Regions from separate parts of the Homo sapiens genome. Here regions 1 and 3 are each linked to region 2. The links come from fine-mapping of genetic effects on gene expression. A gene starts in region 2. Each other region holds a variant in brackets. All regions are shown on one strand. Distances are between the middles of the regions. Region 1 overlaps MPZL1 (myelin protein zero like 1). Region 2 holds the start of MPZL1 (myelin protein zero like 1). Region 3 overlaps MPZL1 (myelin protein zero like 1).

The links. PIP is the estimated chance that this variant, and not a neighbour inherited with it, causes the effect.
Region 1: its variant is fine-mapped to the expression of MPZL1 in monocytes (TOPMed, PIP 0.90).
Region 3: its variant is fine-mapped to the expression of MPZL1 in blood mononuclear cells (TOPMed, PIP above 0.99).

Annotation. Positions count from the first base shown.
Region 1 is chr1:167,784,597-167,787,362 of GRCh38, forward strand. The region is part of intron 5 of MPZL1 (myelin protein zero like 1); the gene reads left to right. Among named protein-coding and RNA genes, the nearest start is that of MPZL1, 64 kb to the left of the region's middle. The variant C/T (reference allele first, on the strand shown) is at 1,443.
Region 2 is chr1:167,720,708-167,723,473 of GRCh38, forward strand. MPZL1 (myelin protein zero like 1) reads left to right here and starts at 1,275. Exons shown (of 6, transcript NM_003953.6): 1 at 1,275-1,535. The coding sequence starts at 1,445. RefSeq lists silencers at 915-1,284, 1,675-1,744, 1,775-1,914 and an enhancer at 1,603-2,103.
Region 3 is chr1:167,779,093-167,781,858 of GRCh38, forward strand. The region is part of intron 5 of MPZL1 (myelin protein zero like 1); the gene reads left to right. Among named protein-coding and RNA genes, the nearest start is that of MPZL1, 58 kb to the left of the region's middle. The variant A/G (reference allele first, on the strand shown) is at 1,504.

The DNA of each region.
Region 1 (2,766 bases), 64 kb after region 2:
CCTTCCACCTCTAAATAGCACTCAGAATCAAACTTCATAGAGGTGTTCTAGATTGAGCTAGATCTGTCAGCAGACCCCAATCTCAACCTACATCTGCAGTTTCTCTGCATCCTTTCTTTCATCCATCCCTTCATCCAGCACCTGTGTTCTGCCAAGTTCTAGGAAGTTAACAAAGTCCCTGACTTAAGACCTTATTATATTCTAAGGGGGAAGAGGAATGAGGATAACATCAGGCAGTGGTAAACAGTTTGAAGAATACCAAGTCCATCAGCAGGAAGGGATTTCTTCAGTGTTTTCCCATTTACTTTCATGAGATAGTTGTATTCTTTTGACATGAAAGACAGTACTGTCTCACATGAAAGACCTCATTGATATTTTAACATTTACAGACTAAAAGATAATTCTGTGTTCTTTTTCCTCTTTACTTTCTCTGTTCTCATTCTTTTCTACTCACATAATATATCAATTATCTACTGCTACGTAACAAACCCCCCAAAATATAGTGGCTTAAAACACGCACTATTTATTTGGCTCCCCATTCTGTGGATTGGTCGAGCAGATTCTGGTCTGGATGAGCTCAGCTGATCTCTGCTGGCTCACTTGTGCATCTGCAGTTGGCTAGAAGGTTGACTGGTAGCTGGACAGTCTACAGTGGTCTCACTTACAGTCTAACCATTGGCAGGCTGTTGGCCAGGCAGACAGAGGACAGCTGGGCCATGCATCTCTCATCAGCCATCAGGCTGACTTTGGCTTCTTCACATGGTAGTGGTGGCTGTGTGGGTCCCAAGATCAGTGAGAGTGGAAGTGGCAAGGTCTGTTGAGGTCTGGGTGTGGAAACTGCACAGCATCACTGCTGCCTCATTCTGTTAGTCAGAGCTGATCACAAGATCAGCCCAGATTCAAGGGGTAGAGAAACAGATTTCTACTCTTGATTGGAAGGACCTACAGCATTATGTTGCAAAGAGTAAGATGCAGAGAAGGAAAGAGTTTGTAGCCATTTGTGCAGTCAGTCACACATTGTAAACCCCTTCTCCCATGAACATACCCTAAAACTCTTAGTGAGTTTTTAGGAATTATGATATGGGGTTTTATTATCTAAGAATTTATATAATTTAATGTTGGGAGTTCCGTCCTATTCTTGGAAATAGCTGTTACCAGGGAACAGTTAGTTTAATTCTGTTCCTAGTAGAAAACAGTCTTTTTTTTGTTTTTTTGAGACGGAGTCTCGCTTTGTCACCCGGGCTGAAGTGCAGTGGCGCTATCTTGGCTCACTGTAAGCTCCGCCTCCTGGGTTCACACCATTCTCCTGCCTCAGCCTCCTGAGTAGCTGGGACTCCAGGCGCCCACCACCATGCCCGGCGAATTTTTTTGTATTTTTAGTAGAGACGGGGTTTCACCGTGTTAGCAAGGATGGTCTCGATCTCCTGACCTCATGATCCGCC[C/T]GCCTCGGCCTCCCAAAGTGCTGGGATTACAGGCGTGAGCCACCACACCCGGCCGAAAACAGTCTTTTTAACTTCCTTTTGTTTTTTGGTGGGGTTAGCATTTAACTTGTAGCTTTCTGAGATGAATATAGAGGGTCTGTATGATTATTAACCATGTGATCTGTTAATATTTCCTATGACAGCCATTATAGACTAAAGATAAACACACAGAGTTTGACTATTTAATTTACTTGACCAGTTACCTCAGTGCATTTTAAAGTATGTTTGTGTAACAAGACGTTCATAATAATAACTAACATGTATTAAGTACTGTCTGTGAGACACTGCCTAAGTTATAGGTATCATCTTATTTAATTTTCATAACAACAAAAAACAAAAATGTAGATATTATTAGTAGTACCATTTTAGAGATGAAGAAACTTGTGCTTAGAAATTTACAAATGTGCCCAGGGCCACGTGACCAGTGCTCTTCTCTAAGGTTCAACAAAGACGATATCATAATTCAGACTGCAGATCTGCCAACATTCAAATGGCTCTAGTCCTCGAGTGTTATTTTCTAACTCCGCTTTTAGATGCACCATTGTATAGCCCTTACAACTGGGCCTGTCCCTTCTGTAGATGTGGGAGTAGCTGAACTCCACAGAACCCCAGGTTACACACTAAGGACACAGGTTGTTAGGGCTCCTGGATGAGGGTAAGTGTGTTTATTTTAAACCACGTGCTTTTGGCTATTGAGCTTATGATTTCAAAGGTGAAAGCTTAAGCACGTTATTAGACTTCTCAAGGAGAGTTCCCCTAGATTGGGAGAAAAGTTGACATTGGGTAATATTAAATCTTTCTTTTAAAACCAGGGCTATTTTGTTGTTGTTTACAATTTTAAGAGTCTAGACTGAAAGAGTCATGAAATGCAGCCACCTATCTGACCTCTTCCCCCAACAGTTAGGGAATTCGCTCTGCCCCCAGGCCACCCAACCTTCCCTTGCTCTCCTGAATGGGACCCTGACAATTCCCTGGAATTGTAACCTCTTCCTTACTGCTGAGGCTGAGAAGAGGATCTTTTCTACTTTACTCCATTTAGGGTTTTTCTTTATATCTGTGTAGATTGTGGCTTTTTGTTTTTTCTTTTTAATTTTATTTTAAAACAGGAAGAACAGTTATCTGATATTAAAAATCAAGGAAGCAATATTTGTATTGGTCACAATACGCTCAGACTAAAAGAATTATGCTGTAAGTAGTTGTATTGAAGAATATTTGAAGTGCTTTTAAACTATTTGTTTAAAACTATACCTATTTGTATAACGTGACCAGATCAAATTGATTGTAT
Region 2 (2,766 bases):
TGCATTGGTATCTTTTCCAACCTATGGCATTTGAGATACAACTTCAAAAGGATCTGCTGACAGAAATAGGGCAAAGTGGTTCTGGTATTTTTTTTTTTTAAGTTTTTTTCTCACTAATGTTCTTATGATTTCGCTGTACTGCAATGTTAGCTGAAACAGCACAGATATCAGGAATGGCATTGTTAAGACTGACCTTAGACAAAAACCCTGAAGTGAGAGGTTACATTTTGGGTTCTCACCATACTCTTCCCCCGCTCTTGTCCTAATTGTCTAAAGCTTGCTTCCCTTCCTCATCGTATCAGCCTCCCACCTGAATCTTCCCTTTTCCTCCTTCACACTCATCTTTCTTGTGCCCCTGTCCCCCATTTTTCCCTTTTGTAAGCCATTTTCATAAGGATCCTTCCAAATATTTCCCCTATTGATTGGACAACCCGTAGGTGGCAGACTGTTCTGGGCCAAGGCAACCAAGTTGAGCAGGGCCAGCAATCAGTGTCGGGAACTTCTGCAGGGCACTTCAGAATCAGTGTTGGGAACTTCTGCTTTCTATTTTTCACGGACACAGACAGGAACACAGATATGCGAAAGCAAAACAATCAAAAAGCATTTTCATTTGTTTTTCAGGTAGTAGGAAAGAGTTCCAGATTCCCATCCTTCTGAAGCCAGGAGGGAGGTTCCTAAGAGGAGGTTAGGGCAAGATGGAGACTTCTTTTTAAACTAGTAGATTTCGCAAATTGCAACACATACATTATCTAGTCCACGCAAAGGACAGGCCTTGGGGACACGGCACGGGGAACGTGTTCCACCTGGACGACTGAATCAGAAGTCTCTCCCCCATCAATTGAACGCCTCATTATTTTTCTTTCTGTCTTTTCTTTCTTTTTAAGGTAAATGAATTGCTTCTTTTTCGTTAGGTGAGGCCGGCAGAGAACAAGAAGAGCTGAAACGGAGGCGAGGTTAGTACCCAGCAAAGACCTGTGGCGAGGAGAGACAATGAAGAGGACCACGGGACTGGACCCTGAGAAAGGCAGAGGAGACGCTGGCTGGTGGGGCCCGCAGGCGGACAGCCACGCAGGCAGGCGGAAGGCTCGGCTCGGCCTGGGACCGCTGCAGACCCGGCCTCCGCGCGGGGCCGAGGCGCCTGGGTGGGACCGAGGAGGCGGGGCCTTCCCGGCGGACGGATGATGGACAGCCTGACTCTCCAATCGCGTCCTTAAAAGGGTGCGGGCAGGCCAATGAGCGGACAGCGAGGGCCGGAGTGGGGCTGAGGCTTCGGTGCAGAGCTGGAGAGCCGCGGCTGGGACCGGAGTGGGGAGCGCGGCGTGGAGGTGCCACCCGGCGCGGGTGGCGGAGAGATCAGAAGCCTCTTCCCCAAGCCGAGCCAACCTCAGCGGGGACCCGGGCTCAGGGACGCGGCGGCGGCGGCGGCGACTGCAGTGGCTGGACGATGGCAGCGTCCGCCGGAGCCGGGGCGGTGATTGCAGCCCCAGACAGCCGGCGCTGGCTGTGGTCGGTGCTGGCGGCGGCGCTTGGGCTCTGTAAGTGATGCCAGGACCAGGGCTGGGGCCGGGGAGTGGGGCCCCCGGGCCCGACACACGCCCATCGCGGCGGTCGCAGGCCAGGCGCGCGCACTGAGAGCCGAGGTGGGGAGGGGGCGCGGCCTGCGCTCTCTGGGGCCGAGGGGACCCAGCCCATGGGGAACGCGGGCCTCCGCGACTGGCCGGGAAGGCGCAGAGCCTCTTTCTTCTCTTTCCTGGATCCTGGAGTGCGGAGGAGGAGGGGAGAGTGCTTTACCTTGCTCCTTCCCGGGGGGCGGTCCAGGGGAGCGGACCCGGCGGGCGGCTGCGGTGAGCCCTCGCGGCGCACCCTGCCCTCTCCTCGTGGTGACTCTGGATCGTCTAGGCCCTCCCGGATTCTGACTCAGGAACTAGGGTTCTGGCGTTCTTCACCTTTGGGAGGTGGCGGAAAGTTGCAGGTTTTTCATTTGTAGGGCCTTTGTTGATTTGTTTCCTGTTAAGCCAGGGTTTTGTTGTAAGTTCCCTTTCCCATGCTCTCATTCAGTTTTAAGTCTCCGTAATAAAAGAGTCTCATTTCCGTGGTCTGCAAAACGCCAATAAAAAAATATTGTTACTTCTAGGTTAGAATGCAAAGAGCTTGGAATACCAGTGAGATGGCCTGGCTTAAAAGAATTTGGTCAAATCCATCATAATTCCAGACGTAGCCACCATAATTTGACAAGACATAGAGCATTAAAAAGCATAATTTTCCTAAAGGAAAAAAAAAGCTCCTTTTTCTTACCAAATATTGTGACTCAAGCTTAAGGTAAACCTCGGGCTCAATTTATGGGAATTGGATGACTTGTTTTATGGACATCTGAAGTGGTATCTGCCACAGGACTTTTCTGTGTTGTTGTTCAAAGCAAAGTACTTGTTGCTGTCTCCGAATTTAGTTAAATAATAGTTATAAAGAGGGCCAGCTGCTAAGAAACCACGTAGATTTTTTTCATTCCCTTTGTTTTCAAAATGTCAGTTATGATTTAGCATCACAGTATCTGAATACCAGAGTTTACTCAGTAATTTCTTTCTTCATGGAAAAGTTCTTAATATAATCCTTGGATCAGGGAAACTAGGTGAAGTTCTGTTGGATCACCAACTGTTCCACTTAAACAGTGATTCCAGGGGCTGTAAAGCATAAATGTAAAAGTCTCCCTACCCTCCAGGGGTTGACAGATGATGACACACTTTGTGTAAGACACAATCCATTCTGTAT
Region 3 (2,766 bases), 58 kb after region 2:
GCCTGGGCAACAGAGCGAGACTCTGTCTCAAAAAAGAAAAAAAGAAAAAAAAGAAAGTGAACAGAGCTTCAGTGAGCCACCGGACAATATCAAGCAATCTAATTAGAATCCGAGAAGAAAAAGGGAGAGAAAAAAATATGTAAAGAAATAGTGAAATTTTTAGTAAATTTAATGAAAAACATAAACACACAGAAAGCAATAGCGAAAATTGCTGGGCGCAGTGACTCAACGCCTGTAATCCTAGCACTTTGGGAGGCTGAGGTGGGTGGATCACCTGAGGTCAGGAGTTCGAAACCAGCCTGGCCAACGTGGCAAAACCCCATCTCTCCTAAAAATACAAAGATTAGTTGGGCATGGTGGCAGGCGCCTGTAATCCCAGCTACTTGGGAGGCCAAGACAGGAGAATTGCTTAAACCACAGAAGCGGACATTGCAGTGAGCCAAGATCGCGCCACTGCACTCCAGCCTGGGCAACAGAGTGAGACTCCATCTCAAAAAAAAAAAAATTGACTCTTTACAGCAAAAATAATGACAGCATTTTATGAGGCTATAACATGTGGAAGTAAAATGTATGACAACAGTAGTACAAAGGATGGGGTGGAAGGATGGAAGAATACTGTTGTAAGGTCCTTATATTATCCATGAAATTATAATTTGAAGGTAGACTGTGGTAAGTTAAAGATATATGCTGCAAATTCTAGAGCAAACACTGAAAAAAATAAAAGAGATAGATACAGCTAACAAGCTCTATCTCCGAATGGCAATACTGATAAGAACAAAATTCTGACATATGCTACAACATGGAAAATGGTAAATGCGGATGGTAATAATATCAACGTTGGCATCAGAACAAGAAATAGAACCAGAGATAGAGGGACTTTTTATGATGATAAAGCGATCTACTTACAAAGAAGACATAATCCTAAATGTTTATACTTGTAATAGTAGAGCTTGAAAATAAGTAAAACTGAGAGAATTGGAAGGAAAAATTGACGTATTTACAATCATAGTTGGAGGTTTCAACAAGAAACTTTAATGTAATCATTTCAAAATACTCAGTTAATCCAAAAGTGAGCAGGAAAGGAGGGGAAAATGAGCAAAGGGTAGATGGGGCAAATAGAACACAAATAATGAAGTGGTAGATTTAAACTCAACCAGACTGATGATTGTATTACTATAAATGGGCTGAGTGTGCCAATAAAAGGTGGAGATGGACAAATTGGATAGAAAAGCAAGAACCAATCATATGCTGTCTGCAATAAACCACTTTAAATAAAAAGATCCAGGTAGGTTAAAAATATTAATACAAGGATGAAATTGAAAGCAGAGTCTTGAAGAGATATTTGTACATCCATGTTCATAGCAGTATTATTCACAAGAGCCAAAATACAGAAGCAACCCAAGAGTCCATCAGTATACAAGTGGATAAATAGAATGTGGTATATATATACACAATGGAATATTATTCTGTCTTTAAAAGGAAAGAAATTCTGACACATGCTAC[A/G]ACATGGATGAATCTTGAAGATATGCCAAGTGAAATAAGCCAGCCACAGAAAGACATACTATGTGATTCTACTAATATCCCATACCCTACAGTGGTCCAGTTCATAGAGACAGAAAGTAGAGTGGTAGTTGTTGGGGAAGGAAGAATAGGGAGTTGTTTAATTGGTACAGTTTCAGTTTTTGCAGGATGAAAATATCGTAGAGATTGGTTGCACAAGGATGTAAATGCACTTAACACTACTAAGCTGTACACTTTAAAATGGTAAAGATGCTAATTTTTATGTTATATATATTTTACCACATTTTTTAAACAGTAAAAGGATGGAAATGATATGCTACATTAACACTAATCAAGAGAAATCTGGGTGGTAATAATATCAGAATAGGCTTCAGAACAAGAAATAGAACCAGGGATAAAGACAGACTTTTTATGATGACAAAGTGATCTACTCATGAAGAAGACATAATCCTAAATATTTATACTTCTAATAATAGAGCTTGAAAGTAAGTGAAGTAAAACTAAGAGAATTGAAAGGAGAAATTGACATATTCACAATCATAGTTGGAGGTTTCAACACTCCTTTCTCAGCAGTTGGTAGAACAGGTTTACAGAAAATCAAAAAAGATGCGGAAGACTTAACAGTGAAACCAGTTTGAGCTAATAGACATTTATAAAACACTCCTTCCATCAAGCGCAGAATTCTTACTCTTTTTAAGTACACATGAAAATTAACCAAATATAGACCATATTCTGGTTCATAAAACAATTCTCATTAAATTTAAAAGGGTTGGAATCATATAGAGTACGTTCTCTGGCCACAATGGAATTAAACAGAAATCAACAGAAAGATACCTGGAAAGTCTCAAATATTTCAAAATTGAACAACCCATGAGTAAAACAAGAAGTCACAAGAAAAATTAGAAAATATTTTGAACTGAGTGAAAATAACATATCAAAATTTGTGAGATATAGCTAAAGAAGTGCTTTGAAGATTTGTAGCATTAACTGTTTATATTAGAAAAAAATAAAGCTCTAAAATTGATGATCTAGGCTTCTGTCTGAAGAAACTAGAAAAAGAAGAGCAAATTAAACCCAACATAAACAGATAGAATTAATAAAGAGAAGAGCTGTGGAAAAATCAGCTGACATTCTCATTGTTTCCCTGTAGGTAATCTGTCGCTTCTCTCTGGCTGCTTTTCGGATCTTCTTTATGCCTTTGGTGTTTGGCATTTTATATACTATTTAATTATAGATTATCCCTTG